7 linked regions of the Homo sapiens genome follow. The protein of the gene in region 2 interacts with the protein of the main gene of each other region in a pairwise test. Each region holds a gene or a part of one and is shown on either strand. Other genes may lie near its edges. The genes, in order: PFDN1, EIF3C, BTG3, TACC3, ALKBH4, AAGAB and DDX3X.

Region 1 (3,500 bases), on a different chromosome or scaffold from region 2:
AGGACAATGTTATTCGCCAAAGACTGAGCAAAAGCAAAAAAGCACAAAAACATAACATGTGTGAGGAAACCTATGTGGCAAGGGTAGGATAACAATTTCTAGTACATGTGCTACTACTCTTCTACCCTCACTGTGTAACAGACATCACTAATCAATTAAAGCATGTTTAAAACCCATTTGACATCTCAAAATTCTTCTCAACATATAACACAAACTAGTAGAAGGAGGTAGGTCCATGAGATGAAATATACATGCTATCCTAACCCTGGAAAAAGAAAGTGGTGGGACTTGAGGCAAAGGGTAAATTAAGAACAGATTATGAATAACCATGAATGCAAGGCCAACAAGTTTAGATTTTATCCTGTGGACAACAGAGGATGAACAAAGGACTTTAGGAAGAATATTGATGTGATTAATTCTGAAAGATATGTGAAGAATGGATTTGGACAGACAGAATGAAGGCAGGAAGAAAGAACAGTTAAGATGCTATCATAAAAGTCCAGGCAAGAAGCAATGAGACCTGAATTTCAGCAATGGGAAAATCTACTGCATGTTCTAAAAGAAAAATGAAGTTTTGGATTTTATTATAACCATTTTATTACGGTTTTAAAATGAAAATTTGGGAAAAAGTAATATTCTAGTCAGAATTCCCAAATAACACTCAAAATGGAAAAGAAAAAACAAAGTAAGGTAAAGACTAGAATTAAAGAAGTGAATCACAATGATACCCAAAATTACTCGACTATAAATTCAGAAATAGATATCTCAGGTTTAGCATCAAGAAAGAGAACATCCTCATGACCAGACTAATACTCAGCAAGTCTTTTCTTCCTCTCAGGGCACTAATACGCTAGCCAAACAACAAACGCTATTCACCTTACATGCCCCTACAATACAGGGTCAAACTCATACTCCCGGTGAGATGCAGACAGCACTAAAGTCAAATTTAAAACAGAAGTCTGAAATCATGTAGAAGCTCAACTTTATCCAAACATTTAAAACTCCACACTTCTTTTAAGAAACGTAATTTATATGAAATAAACCTTCTGGAAATAATACCATTCTACTATTTATTAATTCATATCCTAGCCTTTAAACTCCAAAATTCTTGGTATGGAAAACAACTTATCTGTAGCACTTTGGAAAATATGTACAAAAAACAACTCTCCTAACACTTCTGCAGAACGTTTAATAAATGAAACTATTCTAATTAAAAATTAAAACTTCACTGTAGCTCAAAAGCCCAAAGGGAGTAAAACGTTTTTTCTATTTTGAAAAAGGAATTCTTTAGCTATTGCAAACAAAGGCTAGCGCAGTGATGTGAAATCCAAGTACAACATGTTAATAAAGCTGGCATTACTGTTTTAAGACCTAAGGATATTCACATTAAGGATAAAATTATCCTGTAGTGAATGCCAACAATGCATTTCATACTACACAGACACATATTCAAGGGTTCTACTTTGTTCCAATTCTTTTGTGTCCCAGTAACAAACTCTCAAATTGGGATCCTTATCCTCTTAAACTAAAATGAAATATATGAGCTTGGACATAAAATTTACTTGTGCTACATTATTCATTCTGAGAAAGCAAATCAGATGAACAATTTAACATAATCTAATTCTGAACCATAAAGATATGGATTAGTCAGTGATGAGCAGGTCTACTTCTCATGATGTCATTCCAAAGTCATTATTAAATTTTACACATGTTATTCTTTCTTCAAATCAATCACAAAACAAGTCATCCCGAGACTGAGGTCAAATTCCATTCTAACTAAAAGATCTCCAAATCTGAAGTAATGGTCTACTTACTAAGTAATACTCAAAGACCAAATTCCAGAAAAACCCTCCTCCTGTACCTCCCCCCAACTTAAAAAAAAAAAAAATCAGTCTTCTCCTTTTAGCTCACTGTAATGGAATGTGACCTGTACTTAAGGGCTTTTCCATTCCTTTTTTTCTGCTTACAGAATATGAAGCAGACCTATTCTCTCTCACAAGGGCAATATGCTTTTAAAAGAAAAAAAAGTGAAATGTACGAAGTTAATAATGTATTAATTAGAACAAACAAAAGTAAAATAATTTACTAGATTTCTCACATGTGAGTTGTCCTCCTATTAGAACAATGCATGACACTTAGAATGAGTGTATTTTTTACTTTTTTTTTTTTTGAGGCAGAGTTTCACTCTTGTTGCCCAGGCTGGAGTGTAATGGCGCAATCTCGGCTCACTGCAACCTCCACCTCCTGGGTTCGAGCAGTTCTCCTGCCTCAGTCTCGTAACTGGGATTACAGGTGTGCGCCACCATGCCTCGCTAATTTTTGTATTTTTAGTAGAGATGGGGTTTCACCATGTTGGCCAGGCTGGTCTCAAACCCCTAACCTCAGGGGATCCACCCACCTTGGCCTCCTGCAGTGCTGAGATTACAGGCATGAGCCACTATGCCTGGCCAGAATGAGTGTATTTAAATGACAATTGAATTTTTATTTTTATTTTACAACACTGATCAGACATCTGAAAGATTTATGATTTGTATCACTCCTAATAAATTAAGCAGGGAAGAGGAGGTTAAAACTGCACCTACTTAAATAAATCTTCTTCACATACAATATAATATTGCTATAAACATTTTCCATGACAAATCATTTTTATTACTGAACTTACACTTAAGTACCTAATCATAGACAGAACAGGAAAGTAAGCACTTAAGAAATGTACTTTGAGGCCAGGGGCGGTGGCTCACGCCTGTAATCCCAGCACTGTGGGAGGCCAAGGCGGGCGGATCAAGAGGAGAGATTGAGACCATCCTGGCCAACACGGTAAAACCCCATTTCTACTAAAAATACAAAAATTAGCCGGGCATGGTAGCATGCGCCTGTAGTCCCAGCTACTCAGGAGGCTGAGGCAGAATTGTTTGAACCCAAGAGGCGGAGGTTGCAGTGAGCCAGAATCACACCACTGCACTCTAGCCTGGCAACAGAGCGAGACTCTGTCTCAAAAAAAAAAAAAAAATGTACTTTAAAGTCTAAACTTAAACACTTTAATTAATCTACCTGAAGTTCAGCTCCTCATTTTAAAAAAAGAAAGCATTTAATTAGATAATCTTTAAAGTTATTTCTAAGATACTTTAACCTGCCGGGTGTGGTGACTCATATCTGTAATCCAGCACTTTGGGAGGCTGAGGTGGGCGGATCAGGAGGTCAGGAGTTCCAGACCATCCTGGCAAATATGGTAAAACCCCGTCTCTACTAAAAACACAAAAATTAGCAGGGCGTGGTGGCAAGCGCCCGTAATCCCAGTCACTCAGGAGGCTGAAGCAGGGGAATCGCTTGAACCCAGGAGACGGAGATTGCAGTGAGCCAAGATCGGGCCATTGCACTCCAGCCTGGGCGATATAGCGAAAACTCCGTCTCAAAAAGAAAAAGATACTTACTTTAAACCAAAGTTTCTTTTGTTTTGAGACAGAGTCTAGCTCTGCTGCCCAGGCTGGAGTGCAGTGGCA
Region 2 (3,500 bases):
TACACACACACCCCCTAAAAGAGACACACACACACCCCTAAAAGATCTTTGAGACCAGCCTGGGCAACATAGTGAGACCCTGTCTCTACAAAAAATAAAAAATTAGCCAGGCATGGTGGCACATGCCTGTAGTCCCAGCTATGGTGGCACATGCCTGTAGTCCCAGCTACTATGGAGGCTGAGGTGGGAGGATCACTTGAACCTGGGAATTTGAGGCTACTGCGGGCCATGATCATGCCACTACACTCAGTCTAGGTGACAGTGCAAGACCCTGCCTCAAAAAACAAAAACAAAAAAAAGTTTAAAAGACCAATACCACCGCCGGCATGATGGCTCACTCCTGTAATCTCAGCACTTTGGGAGGCTGAGGCAGGCAGATCACTTGAGGTCAGGAGTTTGAGACCAGCCTGGCCAACATGGTGAAACCCTATCTCTACTAAATTACAAAAATTAGTCGGAAGTGGTGGCGGGCACCTGTAATCCCAGCTACTCGGGAGGCTGAGGTAGAATCGCTTGATCCTGGGAGGTGGCAGTTGCAGTAAGCCAAGATTGCACCACTGCACTCCAGCCTTGGCGACAGAGCGAGACTCCCTCTCAAAAAAAGACCAACACCACCAAAAGTTGACAAGGAACTCCCAAACACTAACAGGAGTGTAAAATGGTATAACCACTTTTGAGTTTCTTACAAGAATGTTCACAGCAGCTTCATACATTAGAGCCAAAAACTGGAAATAAACTGGGTGTCCGCCAAGAGGAAAACAGACACAGTGATATGTTCATACCATAGAATAGAAACACAAATAGGAGGGCTGTTTAAAAACCAGCAGTACCCCCAGACAGGTTCACCAGGTGCTCTACACATAAACATTTCCTAGTTGCCTCAAATATACTTTTACATGATCTACACTTCCAGACACAGCTTTTTTTTTTTTTTGAACAGTCTTGCTCCATTACCCAGGCTGGAGTGCAGTGGCACAACCTCGGCTCACTGGAACCTCTGCCTCTTGGGCTCAAGCACTACCAAGCCTGGATAATTTTTTTTTTTGACACGAAATTATGTGTTTACATGCAGGAGGACTGCAGGATGCTGGCAACTGGGAAAGACCAAGTGTCTACTTAAATTTGCACCGGCCAGACAGGTGGCTGTTCTGGTTAAGCCAGTTTGCCAAGAGGCCAGGGGCCTGGCACTCCTTCACCTCCAAGGCCTCCCCATCCTACCTGCACTGGCGGGTCTGCATGCTGAATGTTGTCCTGCAAGTGGCTCATGAGCATGAGGTCGCGGGCCTGGTACCAGCGCGAGTGCAGAGCATGGTGGTAGATGTGGCAGAGGATGGCACATGTGCGGATCCGGTCTGTGCGGTCCTTGGCGTAGATGTACTTGCACAGTCTCTCCATCAACACAGCCGAGTCCTCGCCCTCATTTTCTGCCTGGTCTTGCTCAGACTGGGGAGGAAGGGAGGTTATTTGCAAAGGAGATCCAGCTTTAAAAGGCACAGGCTCTAGCAACTAAAGATGAGACTCTATCCAGTCTCATTCTAATACCTCAGTTTCCCTCCCTGCTCCACCTGCGGAAGTCTAGAGAGTAACAGATTTGCTGTCAAGTCCTGACAGAAGTGGAGGACAGGTGGACACACCCATTCCCCTCTGCCATGACTGCCACGTGCTCACCTTTGAGGAGCCCTCAGGCGGGGTCAGCTGTCGCTGATGGGCCTTGTAATCAAACTTGTAGTAGGTGTGCAGGATGCGCAGCAGGTAGATGCGGCAGACCTCCTCGGTAGTGCCCTTCTCCTCCAGGTAGCGCTGCACACGCTCGATGATGGCACACACCTGGGCCTCATCCTTCAAGTGCTCCACGTACTCTGGCAGGGAGAGCACCCACCCTTGTCTCAGCTGGGCAGCCAGGCTTTCCCATCTGTCCCCACTCATTCCAATCAACCCGTCCCTCTTCTGCACCCGTCAGAAAAGTCTAGTCAGTGTGCCCCAGAAAGGCCATCTCCCACTCCCAGGACCCAGAACCTTCCAGTCCCACAGCTTAGGAAAAAAATCCCAACTGCCAACCTCTGCCAATAAGGGTCTGCCAGGCCTGGCCCTTGCCTGGTCTCCCACGATTCTCCCTCTGGCTTCCTGTGCTGGAGTCCCACTGGCCTTTTTACTCCTGGAACATCAAGCTCGCTCTCTGCTCCTCCTGTCAGGCGCTGTCTTCAGCTGATTCTTCCCCTAACTCCTCCTCATTGGATCTCACCTCAGGTGGTCCCTACTTAAGGGTGCTTTCTCCAGCTGTTAGCTACAGCAGCCACCCCTCCAGCCACTTCTTACCACAGGGCCCTAGTTTAACTCTGAACTTTATATCATCTAGAATTATTATTATTATTTTTTGAGATGGAGTTTCACTCTTTCGCCCAGGCTGGAGTGCAGTGGTGTGATCTCAGCTCATTGCAACCTCTGGCCCGCTGGGCTCAAGGGATTCTCCTGCCTCAGCCTCCCACATAGCTGGGATTTACAGGCACCTGCCACCATGCCTGGCTAATTTTTGTATTTGAGTAGAGCCAGGGTTTTGCCACGTTGGCCAGGCTGGTCTCAAACTCCTGACCTCAGGTGATTCACACACCTCGGCCTCCCAAAGTGCTAGGATTACAGGCGTGAGCCACTGCACCTGGCCCAGAATTATCTTAACATCATACTATTTTTTTTTTTTTTTGAGATGGAGTCTTGCTCTGTCGCCCAGGCTGGAGTGCAGGGGTGTGATCTCGGCTCACTGCAAGTTCCGCCTCCTGGGTTCATGCCATTCTCCTGCCTCAGCCTCCCAAGTAGCTGGGACTATAGGCGCCCAGCACCACGCCTAATTTTTTTTGTGTGTGTGTGTGTATTTTTAGTAGAGATGGGGTTTCACCGTGTTAGCCAGGATGGTCTCAATCTCCTGACCTCGGGATCCGCCTGCTTCGGCCTCCCAAAGAGCTGGAATTACAGACGTGAGCCACCACGCCCGGCCATATCTTACTACTATTATTTTTCAATCTGCCTTTCTCCATCCAGCACAAAAGGTAAGCTTTTGGCTGCCTTGTTAATCACTACACCCTTGACTTGATGGGCACATTCACACTTTTACTGAGTAAACTATGCTGCACTTTCACACCCCAATGCCTCTCATCCAAGCTAAACAAGAGAAGTGAATAGATGCCTTACCCCAAAGGTTCTCAAAGTATAGCCCTGAGACCAGCAACCTGGGAGCAGGCTAGAGGTGCAGGTTCTCAAGCCCCACTCAGACCTATGGAATCAGAAACGATGGGACTGGGAGCCAGCATCTCATCAGGCCCTTCCGTGTGAACGCTAGGTAAGTTGAAAGGCTGGCTTTTCAAGCACTCTGACTTAGTATAATCCTCACAAAGCTCTAAACCTAGTAATATTCCCCACAATTTTCCTCTCAGCAAAGCCCACGCTTGCTCAGGCTCACCTTGGGAGTGAGGGTCAGTATTTTGCATTATTTTGGTAAATTCTTCATC
Region 3 (3,500 bases), on a different chromosome or scaffold from region 2:
ACTCCTAGGCTCAAGAGATCCACCCACTTCAGCTACCCAAAGTGCTAGAATTACAGGCATGCGCCACTGGCTGATTTTTTTTTTTTTTTTTTTGAGACGGAGTCTCACTCTGTTGCCCAGGCTGGAGTGCAATGGGTGCAATCTCGGCCCACTACAATCTCCACCTCCCAGGTGTTCAAGTGATTCTCCTGCCTCAGCCTCCTAAGTAGCTGGGATTACAGGTGCCCACCACCACGCCCAGCTAATTTTTGTATTTTTAGTAGAGATGAGGTTTCACCATGCTGGCCAGGCTGGTCTTGAACTCCTGACCTCAGGTGATCCACCCGCCTCGGCCTCCCAAAGTGCTGGGTTTATAGGCGTGAGCCATCACGCCCAGCCCCAGCTGTACTTATAAATGTAACATATATGCTAGTAATTCAAGTCACAGATCAACTAGAAATTTCCTATAAAATTGACTTTAACCCCAATTAAATAAAAAAGGGGGCCTGTTATTTATACTCACAAAAATGAGAACTGAGGCAGTTATTGAGATTAAAGAAAAAAGATAGTTGTTGAAGAATATAGAGGTTTTGCTTAAATTATATTGCTTACTTCAGAGTTTCCTAGGATAACTACTCACCTCTCATCTTAATTTTTTTTAAGGTAAGATGAAAAAATCTTGTTATTCTTCCAAAACATTTTTGAAGATTTTTGATTTTTTTTAAGTTGTCAAAATATGTAACATATGCTGCTGGTTACTTAAAAAAAAATTCTGAACTGTAGGAAAATAGTGTAATAAACTCAAGTAAAACCAAGAGTTTTTATTCAGTGGACATAGGAGAAATCCACAAATCTATTTAAATAGATTGCACAGTGTCAACACTATCAAACAATTTCTAGCATCAGGACAAAGGATATTGTTAAGCGGTTCTTACAAAACACATACAGTTAGAAATGTAATTAAAGTGATTCTAAGTTTGAAAAAAGATAAAAATAAGTAACTCTAAGTAGAAATAATGTCAAGCTTTTGATTCAATAGTTAGCTGAAGTTAATTCATTTCAAGATAGCACTCGTCTCAAATTATTTCTGAATCAGAATGGTTATCTATTATAAAGTAAAAGGCTTAACTGCTATAAAGCCTTTGAAAATGTACATGAGGCTGGGTGCAGTGGCTTACACCTGTAATTCCAGCACTTCAGGAGGCCTAGGTGGGCAGACTGCTTGAGCCCAGGAATTTGAGACCAGTCTGGGTAACATGGTGAGACCCTGTCTCTCAAAAAAACAAAAAAACAAGAACAAAAAATTAAAAAAACAGAAAAGAAAATGTATGTGGAAATCTAGCAGTCTCAGAGATCACACATAGATGAGTTCTATTTCTTCAGATAGCTATGCTGTCTTCCATTCCTATAGGCCAAATGAAACTATAAATACTACTTAAATATAGTACATAACTTCGCTTTTGTATTCTTTTTTAGTTTACCTCATAAAAGTTGCTACAGGGGCTGGGCGCGGTGGCTCATGCCTGTAATCCCAGCACTTTGGGAGGCCAAGGCGGGTGGATCATGAGGTCAGGCGTTCGAGGCCAGCCTGGCCAACATGGTGAAACCCTGTCTCTACTAAAAATACAAAAAATTAGCCGGGCATGGTGGTGTGCGCCTGTAATCCCAGCTACTCGGGAGGCTGAGGCAGGAGAATTGCTTGAACCTGGGAGGCAGAGGTTGCAGTGAGCTGAGATCGCACCACTGCACTCCAGCCTGGGCGACAGAGTGAGACTCCGTCTCAAAAAAAAAAAAAAAGTTGCTACGGGATGGTAGAAAGGGCATTAGACTAGTTTCTCATTCTGGCTCTGCCACTGACTAGCTTGGTCACCAGAGGCAAGTCACTTAATTTCCCTAGGCCTTAGTTTCCTATATGCTGGACGAGGAAGCTGGAGCTGGCTAGATAGTGGTTGATCTACGGCTGGTGACTCTTCGTAGTATAAAATACCTAAACAGAAGCTGGACATGGTAGCTTACATCTATAATTCTAGTACTTTGGAAGGTCAAGGCAGGAAGATTGCTTGAGCCCAGGAGTTCACAATTATAGTGAGCTATGATCATGCCACCGCATTCCAGCCTGGACAACACAGCAAGACCCTCTCTCTAAAACAAAACAAAACAAACAAAAAATAAATTCCTAAACAATTGAGTTCCTCACAACATAAAATTTGTGTTCTCTAATTTCAAGTTTACTTAGCATAAGGTTTTAGCAATACACATTTACTCCATGTCCCCTCCACAGTTGGAAGACTCAACAAATTTCAAGACAATCAAGGGTTAATTCATGTGTTAATGACACTAATATAACAATGACTTAGGCCTATCTTCAGTTTTGCCCATTAATGGAATCAAAATTCAAAAATGGAAAGGCAAGAAATTTGAGAAAAATTCCTGCCTTTGTAAACAGAAACCTCAACCAAGGGCAAATATCTAATGATTGAAGGATCAGCATTATTAACTCAGATTTCTTTGACACCTAGTTTGGTTCTGCATTTTTCCCTTTGTACTATTTTGGTATGAAGGCTCTCTCTTCATGGTAAGAGAAGCTGCTGACTATACTACTATAACATTACAATGTGCAGTCGATATCTTAGGAGAATTAGTAGACACCTGGACAACTTTTAAACTTTCCATTTTTCAATGATCACTGATAAAACATCAAGGCTAATTTAGTTATTTAGAAACAATCAATAGTATTTAACACTCTATTGGGGGAAAAAAAGGATGGCAGAAATCACCAAAAAAAAAAAAAGTTGTAAAATATGTTGAGTAGATAAGCTGGCATCTGTTCTCAGAACTTCTCATCATAGGCAAGATTTATTTTCTATTCTGTATCACGAAGTGATAACCTTTCTAACTATATGGCACTCTTTGTACTCTTGCAGCATTTTATTCTATCAGAGTAAGTGAAGACTATGAAGAATGTTCTCAGTGCATCTCAATTTTTTTTTACAATCTTAGTCTCTAGTATACCAATGAGTTATTATTTTTAAAGATTCTCAGATATTTGATCAATTGTATACTTGCTAGATCAGCTTTAATTTTCAAAATATCTATGTTTCCAGTTTTGGTGAAAAAATATTTCTCAATGTCTTTTTCTTCTGTTAACTTATATCAACCACCTCTACTAAACGATTAATACGTCTTTCTTTTTGGGGTTCTGTTATTGAATGAACACCTGACACTCGCAGGTGATTTCTATTAGCTGTGAAAAAAATCACATCAGAGCCAATTTTTGGCAAATTTACATATAAATTAGAAGCCTACTGAATGAAAAGGTTTTCTAAGATTAATAAGATGAAAGCAAAGTAGCAGTTTTTTCCTACCAGGCATCATCAAGTAATGAAATGTCTACTGAAGTAGAATGTCCGTATAACTAAAGTTTTTATGTTCAGGTACTGAGACTTATTTTAAGCATTTTAAATACATAGGTCCAAAATGTTTATATAATTATGTAACTTGTTAAACATCCTTGGACATAA
Region 4 (3,500 bases), on a different chromosome or scaffold from region 2:
TTTCTAGAAGTCTTTTATGTTAAAGGTATGAGCCCTGCTCTCCTAACACTGACTAAGTTTTGACAAACCACAAGTTTGTGCATGAGTCATTCAAAGTCAAGGGACCCAACTGCCTGCGAAATGACCACCTGCCGATGATGCAGGTGTCTCGAGCTGCCCAAGTGCTCACGGGATCCCCTCCGGGCAGACTGTGTGTGACGTCTGTGCCAGGCAACGTACCCTCAGCGGGGTCTCTGAAGCTCTCCTCTTTCAGCTCCAAGGCAGGCTGCCCCTGCTGATGGGTGGGCACTGGCTCACTGCCTGGACAGCTTGTGGGAAGCGAGGTGCTGGCAGAGTTCAAGGCTCTCTCCTGGAGGAAAGGGCAGAGTCACCCTGTGCAGTGCAGTCAAGGTACTTGGGGTGTGGCTTTGCCTCCCCACAACCTTGTTGAAGTAGACTTGGGGGAGAGGGAGCGGGACATCCCACCCCGTCACCCAAGGCTGCTGGGGGCTTCCACTGCCTGCTACTCTTCTACACGACCAGGCCAGGAGCACAGGTACCCACACAAGCACCCCTTACCTTGCTCTCTGCTGTTGGGGTCTCGGCTGCCAACTGCACCACAGGCGTGTCCTCCGCTGAGGCTGAATGCAGCTGCCTGGGGAGACAGAGTCAGCAGAGGCCCATGCCCCCCACCCCATAACCCCGGCGTCCCCTGCTCCAGCACTGAGCTGCCATCGCCTTTCCCTGCACTGCTGTGCCGGCCACGTGAACATTCAGCTAGAGCGTGCCAGGCATGGGGCTGTCCCAAGCGACCTGGCCACAAAACTGCCTCACCAACCTCACCCAGCAGGAAAACACGCGCCTTGCCTGCCAGCTCTGGGAGAAGCAGGCTGGGAGCTCTAAAGTCAGCACGATGCAGCCAAAGGGAATCACAAGGATGAGTACATCCCTTTTACTGTGAAACTGACAAAAGGCTTCAAATGTGGAGGCTGGGGCAGGTGTGGGCAGCAAGCCACCCAGGGGCCAAGGCAAGACACCAAGGGCACAAGCTGTTCCAGTATCATAAATATACAGAATAAGAATAGTTATACTAGAAATAGATTATAGATATGATTATATATGAATATCGTTAATCATTAGTTTGTAGCTTTACTCTTTATTCTAATATTATAATAATCTTTGTTCTACAATAATAACCTAGGAAACGCCGGGTGCGGTGGCTCACGCATGTAATCCCAGCACTTTGGGAGGCCGAGGCGGTCGGATCACGAGGTCATATCTAGACCATCCTGGCTAACACGGTGAAACCCCGTCTCTACTAAAAAATACAAAAAAATTAGCCGGGCATGGTGGCGGGTGCCTGCAGTCCCAGCTACTCGGGAGGCTGAGGCAGGAGAATGGTGTGAACCCGGGAGGCAGAACTCGCAGTGAGGCGAGATCACGCCACTGCGCTCCAGCCTGGGTGACAGAGCGAGACTCTGTCTCAAAAAACAAACAAACAAACAAATAACCCTAGGAAAAACCAGGCCATATAGAGATAGGAGGTGAAGGCACACGGTGAGAAAGTGACCGGAAGAGGTGTGTGAGCCCTCTGTCACGCCCGGACAGGGCCACTGGAGGGCTCCCTGGTCTAGCGGTAACACCAGCACTTGGGAAGGCACCCGTTACCTAGCTTGGTCTAGCGGTAGCACCAGTGCCTGGGAAGGCACCCGTTAATTAGACTGGGAAAGGGAGTCTCCCTTTCCCTGGGGGAGTTAGAGAAGACTCTGCTCCACCATCTCTTGTGGAATCAGTCAGGCCCGCCCGCAGCCATCCAGAGGCCTGTGTCCCTGTGATGCTGTGCTTCAGCAGTCACGCTCCTGGTCCACTTTCATGATCCGCTCTGTACACCTGGCTCTGTCTTCTAGATAGCAGTAGCAGAATTAGTCAAAGTGCTAAAGTCTTTGAAATACATAGAAAAAATAATGGCGTCAGCTGTCCTCTCTCTCCGCCTTGGCTGCCAAACAGGGAAGGGCCCAGTGGACACGTGACTTGCGTGACCTGACCTATCATTGGAGATGGCTCACACTCCTTAACCTGTCCCCTTGCCTTGTATCCAATAAGTAACAGCGCAGCCAGACATTCGGGGCCATTACCGATCTCCGTGCCTTGGTGGTAGTGGTCCCCCGGGCCCAGCTGTCTTTTCTTCTGTCTTTTTCTTGTGTCTTTATTTGTACAATCTCTTGTCTATGCACACGAGGAGAAAAAACCCACAGACCCAGTAGGGCTGGACCCTACAGGCAGGACAATCTCCCACTGAGCAACTCTAGGAGATGTAGCCTAAGACCATTCAGCCAGGAGGCAGCAGACCCACGGCCAAGACCCCAGCAAGCAGCGGACGCCACCCAGGCAGTAACAGGCTTTGCCTGGCTTTTGGAGTTACACACCCAAGTCAAGTTCACCTGAGGAGGAACATGACTGGGGGACAGGGTCCTGCCCAGGGTTGGTTGCATTTGGCTTCTGGCCTGAGCCCGCCCTTATTGGATCCCTCCTTAGGCCAGGAGCACTAAAGAGATGCATGGCAGCCAAGGCAAGGCCAAGCACCCTCAGCTGGGAGCCACCTGAGCCCTGTTTTTATCCAGAGGCCCCTCCTCAGGCAGAACCTACCCGGCCTCAAAGGAGTATCTGATGACACTTCTGGCCTCGGGTCCTGGACCACATACACTGCAGGGCAGCTGCCCCACGCCACGCTCCCCATCCCATCCTCACACTTACTGGCTCAGACAGGGACCTGGCTCCTCCGTGGCAGGCCCAGCATGCAACTGTTCAGCCGCTGGCTGGCCCAGCCTGGTCTCAGGGCTTTCTGGGGGCTGGGCCTCACTGCAACCAGACTTGGTGTCACCTCCGAACGGGATGAAGTTTGGGTCATCCATTTTGTCCCAGTCGAGGTGGTAAGAGCCCCGAGAAGCTGGCATGGGGGGGTCCTCTCCTGCTCCGCTCCTACCGTCGTCCTCCTCCACCTCCTGCGGGGCCTTTTGCTGCCTCACTGCTGCTTTCCTCAAGGGAGGCTTGAGGCCGGACCTCTCTCCCAGTCTCCTTGGTGGGGGTGCCCTTTTGCTGGTGGCGCCATCAGATACATCAAATTCTAGTTTTACAGGTCCGCTCCTCGAGGAGCTGGCCATTTGGCCTGCAGCCACTTCTTCCTGAGGACTCAGGGTCATGGCCCTGCCAGCCACCAGGTGGTTGGTTGGGGCTGTGCTCTCAGGAGCAGAGGTGTGTGCACAGGTAAGGGTCTGAGTGCCATCTGCTGGCACGGGGGTGCCCACACCCGCAGGGCAGCCCAGGGCTTCGCCAGGCAGACCCTGCAGGGGTGCTCCTCCGCAGGCTTCCTTAGGGATTGCACCAGGAGGCGAAGTGGCCACTGCTGCGGGAGCACAGACCCCACCGTGCCGGCATTCCTCCTCGGCTCCGTGCGGAGTCTCCGCTTTGCATTCTTCCTCGGCTCCGTGCGGAGTCTCCGCTTTGTGCTGGGACTCTGTCCT
Region 5 (3,063 bases), on a different chromosome or scaffold from region 2:
GTCCATCGACAGATGAATGAGGAAATGAAATGTACCAACATCCAACAGGATGTCACAAAAGAATGGGGCTGGGCGCGGTGGCTCACGCCTGTAATCCCAGCACTTTGGGAGGCTGAGGCGGGCGGATCACTTGTCAGGAGTTCGAGACCAGCCTGGTCAACATGGTGAAACCCCGTCTCCACTAACAGTACAAGAATTAGCTGGGCATGGTGGTGGGCACCTGTAGTCCCAGCTACTTGGGAGGCTGAGCCAGAAGAATGGCTTGAACCCGGGAAGCAGAGGTTGCAGTGAGTTCAGGTCATGCCACTGTACTCCAGCCTGGGTGGCAGAGCGAGACTCTGTCTCAAAAAAAAAAAAAAAAAAAACCTACAATGAAGGGAGAGGGGGCACCCGGGGATGTTTGGACACAGGTGGGGAAGGAGTTGGAGGGAGCGGCGGGCCCGGGGAGGGGGAAGGTGGGAATGCGTGTGAGGAGACAGGACACGGATGGTGACAATGGGAGGTGGGGGCGCCTGCAGCTTGGGAGAATGGGGTGCCTTCACCACCACCAAGCCAGCTACAGAGGGGCAGAGAGCCCAGGAGCGCATATCACAGGGAGATGGGGTGCCCAGGTGCACCTCTGCCCATCGGACACACGTCCTGCAGCGAGTCTGGCTGCCCACAGCCCCAAGGTCTGGGGAACTCGCCCACTACCAACCCTGGAGGTTTGAGGGGTGTGGCTGCAAGGAGGGGGATGGCCCCCAGCAGTAGGGCTGTCTCCTCAGCGCAGCCCAGCAACCCCCATGAGCTCAGGGCCGGTCTACCTGCTTCCTCCGTCCAGACTGGGAGAGCTTCCAGGGGTCACGGTCCATGAGCCGCACCAACTCGGCTTCTTCCTCCCGGGTCACAAAGTCCTCGATCAGCATCACTCCTGGGAAGGGGAAGGCCCAGCCCTCAAAGTCAGACTCCTCTGTGCCCACGGCCCAGCCGGTGTCGGAGCAGTAAATGAAACGGTATGTTTTCTGCAAAAGAAACACAAGTCCACAGGCTGGGCAACACAGCGAGACCCGGTCCCTACGAAAAGTTAAAACAGGCCAGGTGCGGTGGCTCACGCCTGTAATTCCAGCACTTTGGGAGGCCGAGGTGGGTGGATCACCTGAGGTCAGGAGTTCAAGACCAGCCTGGCCAACATGGTGAAACCCCATCTCTACTAAAAATACAAAAATTAGCCAGGCATGGTGGCAGGTGCCTGTAATCCCAGCTACTCAGGAGGCTGAAGCTGGAGAATTGCTTAAACCCAGAAGGCAGAGGTTGCAGTGAGCCAAGATGGCACCACTGCACTCCAGCCTGGGCGACAGAGTGAGACTCAAAAAAAAAAAAAAAGTTTAAATAAAAATTAGCCGGGTGTGGCAGAGCGCACTTGTCATTTCAGCTACTCAGGAGGCTGAGGCGGGAGGATCATTTGAGCCCAGGAGGTTGAGGCTACAGTGAGCCATGGTCGCGCTACTGCACTCCAGCCTGGACAACAAAGCAAGACCCTGTCTCAAAAAAAAAAAAAGAAAAAAAAAAAAGGAAAGACACATCCTGGAGCCATGGCAGCCCCTGGCACTTGTGTGCCCTCAGGAGACCCTCTGATGGCTCATTCCTCCCCTCAGGACACTGTGGAAGGCAGCTGGAGTCTAGGGGGAGGTGCAGGCAGAGCCTCTGCCCCAGGCTGACCGGGGAAGGCCCGCAGCCCTCTTGAGCTAACACGAATTTGATTGGTTTCCTTTCTCACTTTCCTCCCCTGTAAAAGAGAAGGGTTTGTACAACATGTTTTTCCTTCTCCATTTTACAAAGGAGGCTCAGCAAAGTTAAGGAACCAGCCCGAGGCTGGACAGCACCTCCTGCACTCCCATCTCCTCAGCTGCTTCCAGGAGGCCCCAAACTGCCTGACTACCTTGAATCTGTGCACCCTAATCTCTTTAGGTCTTTGCTGATGCCACCCCGGTGTCCCAGGGGTTGGCCCGTGCCTATCACCAGCGTGAGGGTCACCTAGGAGGGCAGCCAACTTCCCTACAGAGCTGAGCGTTCAGTTGAGCTCCTCAGTGTCCCAACCTCCCTTCTCCTCACTCTTGTCCTCAGGGCACCTTTCCAGACCCAGCATCACCCCTCAATCCTCATACCCTGGGCTGTCACTCAACTCCCACCCCATGTCCCTCTCTGCTCTGCCACCAACCCCGAGGCCTGGCGGTACTCTAAGGGTTCCCCCATGCTAAAGAAAGTCTAGAAACCAGGCCAGGCACGGTGGCTCACACCTGTAATCCCAACACTTTGGGAGGCCAAGGTGGACTGATCACCTGGGGTCAGGAGTTCAAGACCAGCCTGGCCAACATGGCAAAACCCCGTCTCTATTAAAAATACAAAAACTAGCCGGGCGTCGTGGTGCATGCCTGTAATCCCAGCTACTCAGGTGGCTGAGGCAGGAGAATCCCTTGAACCCGGGAGGTGGAGATTGCAGTGAGCCAAGATCGTGCTAGTGGACACCAGCCTGGGTGACACAGTGAGACCCCATCTTGAAAATAATAATAATACTTTTTGTTTGTTTGTTTGTTTGTTTGAGATGGAGTCTCGCTCTGTCACCAGAACTGGAGTGCAGTGGCACGATCTCGGCTCACTGCAACCTCTACCTCCTGGGTTCAAGCGATTCTCCTGCCTCAACCTCCCGAGTAGCTGGGACTACAGGTGCGCGCCACCATGCCCAGCTAATTTTTTTCTTGTATTTTAGTAGAGACGAGGTTTCACCATGTTGACCAGGATGGTCTTGAACTCCTGACCTTGTGATCCTCCCGCCTTGGCCTCCCAAAGTGCTGGGATTACAGGCGTGAACCACCATGCCCAGCCAATAGTAAATTTTTAAAAAAGAGTTTCGCCAATGAAATAGCCAGTATTTGCATCTGTGGCACTGAACATTTTACATGGATTATCTAGTTTCATCCCCAGGACAGCCCCAAGAGGAAGGTACCATAACTATCATGGGCAGGAGGTGTGGAGGTTCTGGCCGGAGTCACCCAGTGAGGACTTCGGAGGCCACCAGAACTCAGC
Region 6 (3,500 bases), on a different chromosome or scaffold from region 2:
TGTATGTCAGTTATTTTGTATAATGTCCCTTAATTGGGTTTGTCAGATTGTTTTCTTATTATTAGATTGCAGTTATGCATTTTTGGTGAGATTACCTTCTCACTGCATCCTATCAGGAGGGCTATTATGTCAATATGTCTTATTACCAGTGATGTTAACCTTCATTACATAATTAAAGTGGCTGGCATCTGATGAGTTTCTCCAGTGTAAAGTTACTATTTTCCCCTTTGTAATAAATAAACATCTTGAGAGAGATACTTTTAGACTATGCAGATATACTACTTCTCCTCAAACTTTCACCTATGCTACCAAGAACTATTACTGTGTTTTGTGCCTAATGATGGCTTTCTATTTTCCTCATTCCTTCTATATTTATTACTTGGGATTCTTCTGGAAGGAGATGCTGTCCTTTCTTTCTCATTTGTTTATTCAATTATTTATTTATATTAGTATGAACTCATGGATACTTAGCTTACTCTATGGGTTATAACCCAATACTATATTAATCTACTTTGCTGGTCAAATTGTTCCAGATTTAGCCACTGGAAGCTCTTTCAGGTTGGTCCCTATGCCCTTTCAACATGTCCCCATTCTTTTTTGAGAATTTTCTTAATTTCTGGTACCAAGAGATGCTCCAGGGTCATCCTGTATTTTTCTTGCCCAAGTCCTGGAATCAACCACTTCTCCAAGGAGCCCTAGTTCCTTTTATTGGAGAATGGTATTTAGAAAGCAAGATCTGGCCAGGCGCAGTGGCTCACGCCTGTAATCCAAGCACTTTGGGAGGTCGAGGCAGGTGGATCACCTGAGGTCGGGAGTTTGAGACCAGCCTGACCAACACGCAGAAACCCCGTCTCTACTAAAAAACAACACAAAACAAAATTAGCTGGGCGTGGTGGCACATGCCTGTAATCCCAGCCACTCAGGAGGCTGAGGCAGGAGAATCGCTTGAACCCAGGAAGCGAGATTGCGGTGAGCCGAGATCGTGCCACTGCACTCCACCCTGGGCAACAAGAGCGAAACTCCATCTCAAACAAAAACAAAAACAAAAACACAACAACACACACACACAAAAAGAAAGCAAGATCTGAGTGCTAAGTGTGTCCACTGCTATGGTGGTATTGTTGCTTCTAGGCCTCTCAGTGGACAGAACTAGGAAATATATGTGTGTATACTAATACACGCATATACACACACATCTGTATTTATTTTCTTAACTGTAAGTATATTTTTAAAGCCATGAGTTCATACTGATACATTAGATTCCAATCCAGTACCAAAGGGTACATCTTGGCCTTCCCTTTTCCTTATTTGTAACCTTTTTCCTCTGGCAGTGAGAAACCTAACTCTCACTATCTATATTTTTTATTTTCTATATGTCAGTATATGTGTGGTGTATAAAATATCTATATATAAAATTTCAGAATTGCTGAGCCATGCTCCTATAAGAAACAAATTTACTAAGTAGAGTTCAGTATCTGTGTTCAGTTATTTTTGTTTTTAGCCTTACGGTATCTAGTCCAATTACTGTTTTCTAAAGTTACTTAGGTTAGTGCTTCAAGTCCCCACCCACTTCAGTGTGATTACTAGTTTGTTTTAATGGCAGAGACTCTGGCAGGTTTAAAAGCCAATGGGAAGGATTCAATTGAGAGGCTAAGGATGAATAAACTGGAAAGAAAAAAAATTATACATAATTTTTTCTTCTTCTTCATATGTTTCTATAACCAATCACTTGAGTTTTCTACATGAATTATCTCATAAGAAAAAAGAGTTTTAAAAATTTATTACTGCACATGAGCCGTCTGTAGCATAAAGATAAAGTAGGAATATCAGTAGTTCCCCAGCGAAAGAAGATTTATAGTTATTGTCAAGTAAGCTCCTTGGTTTTCTGGCTTTTGGACAGCATACTGGATTCCAGCTTCAGCTCCAGGCCCTTCTTGCTAGATGTCCTTGGACAAGTTATTAAACTTCTCTGCAAAACTTCATTACCAAATGAGAAAGGGGATATAAAATAACTTTAAAAGCATATGGAAGGGCTTATAAATATAAAGTTGTATTATTCTTGTCACCATCGATTCTGACTTCTGTTAAATATTATGAAAAAACTACGTGATACAGAGCTAGCTGTTTCGCCACCTGGTTCGGTCTGCCTTGGCTAAGATTATCTGAATCAAGATCCTGCTAGGAGAATTAAAGAGAAAATGGTACCCACATATTTGTTATATATTTATTCTTCTTCCTTTTTCTGATAGCCACTGGCAAGGCTCACATTCATGTGTGGTATACTACCAATTTTTTTCCCTTCTCTGTGTTTAAAGTCAATTTCCCCCTCAACAATTTCTGCCCAGATACCTATTCCAAGTTGCACAAAGCTCTCTCTTGGCAGCCAAAGGAGGAACTTACCCACAATGCTATCAACCTGGGCATCTGTTGTGTTAGATGCACCACCCCGATGATCAGAGAGGGATTCAGTACTATCTGCTGCTGGCAAATGGGGTTGCTGTTGAGGAAAATACACATAAGCAACAATTTAATCGTAGTCTATTTCAGAACTAAATCCAAAAAAGCTCACACTTTCAGTCCTTGGTTGGCTTGAGAAAAGAGTAATAGGAACTGGAGGCAAAGAAAGAAGAGCAAGATCACATTAAAAAAATAAAAGGCTAAAACTTAACTAACCCAGAAGTACTTTCCCCCAAGGAAGAACTAGAAAGCGTTGATTTTGCTTTAGACTACTAAAACATGTTTTTTGTTTGTCTCATTTAAGATCCATGTTATATTCAAAATGTGAAAATGTAACACAATCGTAACACAAATAGCTCAGAGGCTGTTGAAAAAGATCCCTGGAAAGACAATGTGGCACTGTATAATTTGCTCTTGGCTCCAGCTGCTGACCAAGGTAAACCTGGAACAAAGTTCTTAAGGATGCAGGGTTGAAACTGGACTACAAGCTCATTGAGGACAGGGACCTTGCCTCAGATTTGCCAAGGTCTTTTACACAGGAAGTACTAAAAAAGCACCATGAATTTTATTTTCTATTTAAAGATCTGAAGGCAAATTAATGCCTCAGGGAAATCCTAGCATATTTTAGAAAGCACCCTAGTAAAAATAAAACCAAAGCTGTAAACATCTTGAAAGGGCTTACTGCTTTAGCAAGGGCTGTTTTAGACCTTCCTTTCATCTATTTTTAACATTCTCTGTCACCTTTTAAATGGAAAGGAAAACAATGGTGAATGTGTCAAGATTCATAATGACAAGGAGAAATTAAAGCCAAAGAGGGAAAAAAGATCCAAGAAAAACCTTTACCTCTGGGTGACAGGGATCTGCTGACCCAATGCTATGGTTTGTTCCAGTCAATGAGTTGAGAAGGCTAAAGCCTTGGTTCCTATCTGAAAAGGAAAAATACACTTAGTGAAATTTGTCATTTACATTTTAAACTGTTCAAATGGCTATGATGATGAAACAAAGGCTACTTATTTGTTACCAAAGTTCTAACTACATATATA
Region 7 (3,307 bases), on a different chromosome or scaffold from region 2:
TACCTGTTTTCAGAGATAAGGTCTTGCTATACGTTGCCCAGGCTGGACTTGAACTCGTGGGCTCAAGCAATCTTCCTGCCCCTCAGCTTCCAAGTAAACTAGCACTATAGGACTATGTAATCATCACACCTGGCCCAAATAGTCTTGATTCCTTCCCTAAGTATATACTTACCATCACTTGTTGGACTACTGACACACTTGACTTTTATCCTGCTCATTCTTCCACTGTTCAACCATCCTTCATAATAGATACTTCAAAGAACAAAGAGACTCCCACCCATGTCAAATTGTTCAAAGTATAAGCCAATTTCTAATACATGCTGTATTATCAGTAAGGGCCTTTTAGATTTCCGTCTATTACAAAAATCCTGTTTCACTGTATTTCAAACTAATACTATCTTCATCTTTCATTGCAAATACTTATGGTATGAGTCATTCTGTATCCAAGAGGCATCTCAAAAAATAGCACTGGATGACAAGCAAAAAATAACATTTTACAATTTTTCAGGCAAGAGCACTTTATTTACACCTCTGAAAATAAACCACAATTGACAACAACAAAGGAGACTGTGCAGTTCAACTTTTTATTTTAATAAAATCAGAATATGCACAGCACATGCAGTGCTAGCATCTAAACTAATACAATAAGCAATTACTAAAGCTACAGTGACTTGAGGTTCAATCTTTACATTCAGCAAGTTTAAATCCTTACATGATTTTTGAAACCTTATTAACTGAAAATATTGCTTGCTGATAAAACTTGCTCAAATGCTATTGCTGAATGTACAAGTCACTGATTATGCCAATACAACAAAGATAACCACATGTTTGAGGATTGCAATGTGCCAGACATTCACTGAAAAAAAAAAAAAAACACACAACTAAACAAAATCCACACAACAAACATCTGAGAATCTGGACACTTCACATCAGTGTTTTGAAGTGTTTCATTAATATCTTAAGACAAGTGTATCAAAACCTTGGCATGATTTAATTTCAAGTCGCCAATTTTGTTTTTACTAACATCAGAAAGTTATGGCTACACTGCCAACGCCGGGTCTGCTTAATTTGACTTAAGAGTTTAATATGACTTAAACATTAAAAGCTCACACTACCCCGAAATATATAATTTCACGCATACGGTGACATTCAACATTCAAGTGCCAGTGTTTTTGTACTGTCTTTTGGTCAAGTTTCTTTAAACTTTCAAAGAATCACTTTTAGGCTTACAAAAATAAATATTTGTCAAAATGTTCAATAAATATTACATAAAACTAGCAGCAAAAAGTATCTAGAAATCTGTCGTGTGCAAATAGTTTTCTTCCCAACTATCATTCCCATGGTCCCAAATAAATTTTAGAATCTAGTCCCATCCCCTTCCTAGACAAGCTGCGTTCAACAATCTCCAAGAGACAAAGTAAGATTGGAAGTTTAAGGACACGCACACAAGACATATATATAAAATTCTCTGAATGTGCAATAAAAGAAGTACTTTGTAAAAAGTTATGGGCAAAATGTACAAGGGCCTAAACCTAGACTAATTGAAATAGCACCATAACAAATGACCTCAATACTGTCAAGTGCACCTACTTAATAAAAGTTTTAGAACAAGGCACAATACACTTGAAAATCTATTGCACTTTAGGAAATTTTTGCCGTCTTCCTATGCCACTGTAAAAAGATGGAGCGTTTTGATCACCGCATTCTGGCCACAAAATTAGCACAGAATTCAAAGTGGCAGAGGCATTTTAGTGGTGGACAATGCTCATCTTTGGCCAGATTTAGCATAAACAGACTATAAATACAATGGAAACCTATGCAACTAAAACTGACTAAAACTGCACTGTAGAGCAGAATTGACACCTTGTGCAGTTATGTACATATTTCCAACCTGTGTGATCTCAAAGATTTCAGTTTGTTACTCTTCTGGAGCCATTTTTACGAAGTCTATAGTAAGCCAGTTTAACATCTCAACGCAGCTTGAACAGAGTAATGTGAATCGGCATTTAAAATAAAGCCTGCTGCATTTAATTCTTCCTGTTCATACCCTCTTGACCAAAAAACATCAACACTAGCATGCGTTATTAGACCAAAAATCATCCAGGGCCCTAATGAGGGCTGGTCATTGCTGTGGTCAGCCATTCTACCATTTCAATTTCATTTATGGCAGGCATTTAAAAAGTCTAAGTAGATGAATTCTCCTAAAAACCTATTTCAAGTTATCAGACCTTTAAACTTTCCCTGTAATAGTATGCCCACATTTGGCTAGCTCATAATTAATGATCTGCCTAAACGTTGAAAGAGGAATTGCTGTATTTACTTGCATTAACTTTGAAAACAGTGCTTTGAATGTATGCATGTATTCATACATCACCTCATCATGACTGGAATGGCTTAAAGACTATCAGGTTCTAAATACCTATCCAGGATAGAGTGAGCAAATCAGAACTTTAACTTAATACAGTTTGCCACATTAGAAACTAATTCCATTAATATGCTTCAAGACATTTGTTGTTTTCCCCCAATCTGCAAGTATCAAAAAGCCCTAATGCAGGCTACCGCATAAGTTTTTCCTTATATTATTTATGGATGAATCGATGATTCCTGTTAAGTTGTATCACACCTGTGTGCCAAGGTTTGATTTTAGCCCAAGTTCAGTAAATTTATTTTGTCAAAACAATTGATATCTTGAGCATTACTGAGCCAACAGGACATCAAAATAAAAAGTTGTCTAAAGTTAAAGGCACAGTACATTAACAAACAAATGATCCTCAGTCACAAAATTATAAATGCAGTTTGGGATGGGGGTAGGCGGGAGGGGAGTTAATCCAAACTACAGCAATGAAGTCTTCAAACCACCTTCTGAACAGGGCTGCTGATTGTTCCTTTCATTTCTTCTTGTGACCTTGAGCTCCCTTAAAAAAAAAATTTCAGTGGAGAATCACAGCTGGTAATGTACTGCGAGTTCTTGAAGCTACACAAGGTATAGTCTGGCTAAGTTACATGTGGTTTCCATATTAGCTTGTTTGGCAGGGTGACCTACTGCAAAGCAGGCTCAGTTACCCCACCAGTCAACCCCCTGGGAGTTATAATTTCCTCCATATCCATCACTGTTGTAAAAGCCTCCATAGCCACCTAATGAGAGATTTAAAAAGAGAGAGAAATTAATGAAGTTATCCATCATTAAATACAATCCTTCCCTTACGTAATTTGCCATCAAGTTTCTATAGTGCTGAACTTAAATTGTTTAATTAGGCTTTGAAAAAGATGACTAAAAGGAAAAAAACCCTTCCCAAAGCTATGAAGT

Evidence for each region.
Region 1: the proteins of EIF3C (region 2) and PFDN1 interact in a two-hybrid assay, tested with the Homo sapiens proteins (one large-scale study listed by BioGRID and IntAct).
Region 3: the proteins of EIF3C (region 2) and BTG3 interact in a two-hybrid assay, tested with the Homo sapiens proteins (one large-scale study listed by BioGRID and IntAct).
Region 4: the proteins of EIF3C (region 2) and TACC3 interact in a two-hybrid assay, tested with the Homo sapiens proteins (one large-scale study listed by BioGRID).
Region 5: the proteins of EIF3C (region 2) and ALKBH4 interact in a two-hybrid assay, tested with the Homo sapiens proteins (one study listed by BioGRID and IntAct).
Region 6: the proteins of EIF3C (region 2) and AAGAB interact in a two-hybrid assay, tested with the Homo sapiens proteins (one large-scale study listed by BioGRID and IntAct).
Region 7: the proteins of EIF3C (region 2) and DDX3X interact in binary tests that used the Homo sapiens proteins (3 or more experiments, as listed by UniProt).

What each region holds. Positions count from the first base shown.
Region 1 is NC_000005.10:140,296,602-140,300,101, forward strand, and holds part of PFDN1 (prefoldin subunit 1), read right to left. Parts: intron 1-3,500. UniProt on the Homo sapiens protein: Binds specifically to cytosolic chaperonin (c-CPN) and transfers target proteins to it. Binds to nascent polypeptide chain and promotes folding in an environment in which there are many competing pathways for nonnative proteins.
Region 2 is NC_000016.10:28,724,964-28,728,463, reverse strand, and holds part of EIF3C (eukaryotic translation initiation factor 3 subunit C), read right to left. Parts: coding exon 3,452-3,500; intron 1,860-3,451; coding exon 1,669-1,859; intron 1,444-1,668; coding exon 1,219-1,443; intron 1-1,218. UniProt on the Homo sapiens protein: Component of the eukaryotic translation initiation factor 3 (eIF-3) complex, which is required for several steps in the initiation of protein synthesis.
Region 3 is NC_000021.9:17,599,402-17,602,901, forward strand, and holds part of BTG3 (protein BTG3), read right to left. Parts: intron 1-3,500. UniProt on the Homo sapiens protein: Overexpression impairs serum-induced cell cycle progression from the G0/G1 to S phase.
Region 4 is NC_000004.12:1,728,021-1,731,520, reverse strand, and holds part of TACC3 (transforming acidic coiled-coil-containing protein 3), read right to left. Parts: coding exon 2,734-3,500; intron 635-2,733; coding exon 559-634; intron 350-558; coding exon 220-349; intron 1-219. UniProt on the Homo sapiens protein: Plays a role in the microtubule-dependent coupling of the nucleus and the centrosome. Involved in the processes that regulate centrosome-mediated interkinetic nuclear migration (INM) of neural progenitors.
Region 5 is NC_000007.14:102,458,801-102,461,863, forward strand, and holds part of ALKBH4 (alpha-ketoglutarate-dependent dioxygenase alkB homolog 4), read right to left. Parts: intron 1,002-3,063; coding exon 804-1,001; intron 1-803. UniProt on the Homo sapiens protein: Dioxygenase that mediates demethylation of actin monomethylated at 'Lys-84' (K84me1), thereby acting as a regulator of actomyosin-processes.
Region 6 is NC_000015.10:67,206,162-67,209,661, forward strand, and holds part of AAGAB (alpha- and gamma-adaptin-binding protein p34), read right to left. Parts: intron 3,384-3,500; coding exon 3,301-3,383; intron 2,498-3,300; coding exon 2,401-2,497; intron 1-2,400. UniProt on the Homo sapiens protein: May be involved in endocytic recycling of growth factor receptors such as EGFR.
Region 7 is NC_000023.11:41,347,468-41,350,774, reverse strand, and holds the end of DDX3X (ATP-dependent RNA helicase DDX3X), read right to left. Parts: intron 3,136-3,307; coding exon 3,056-3,135; 3' UTR 501-3,055; downstream 1-500. UniProt on the Homo sapiens protein: Multifunctional ATP-dependent RNA helicase. The ATPase activity can be stimulated by various ribo-and deoxynucleic acids indicative for a relaxed substrate specificity.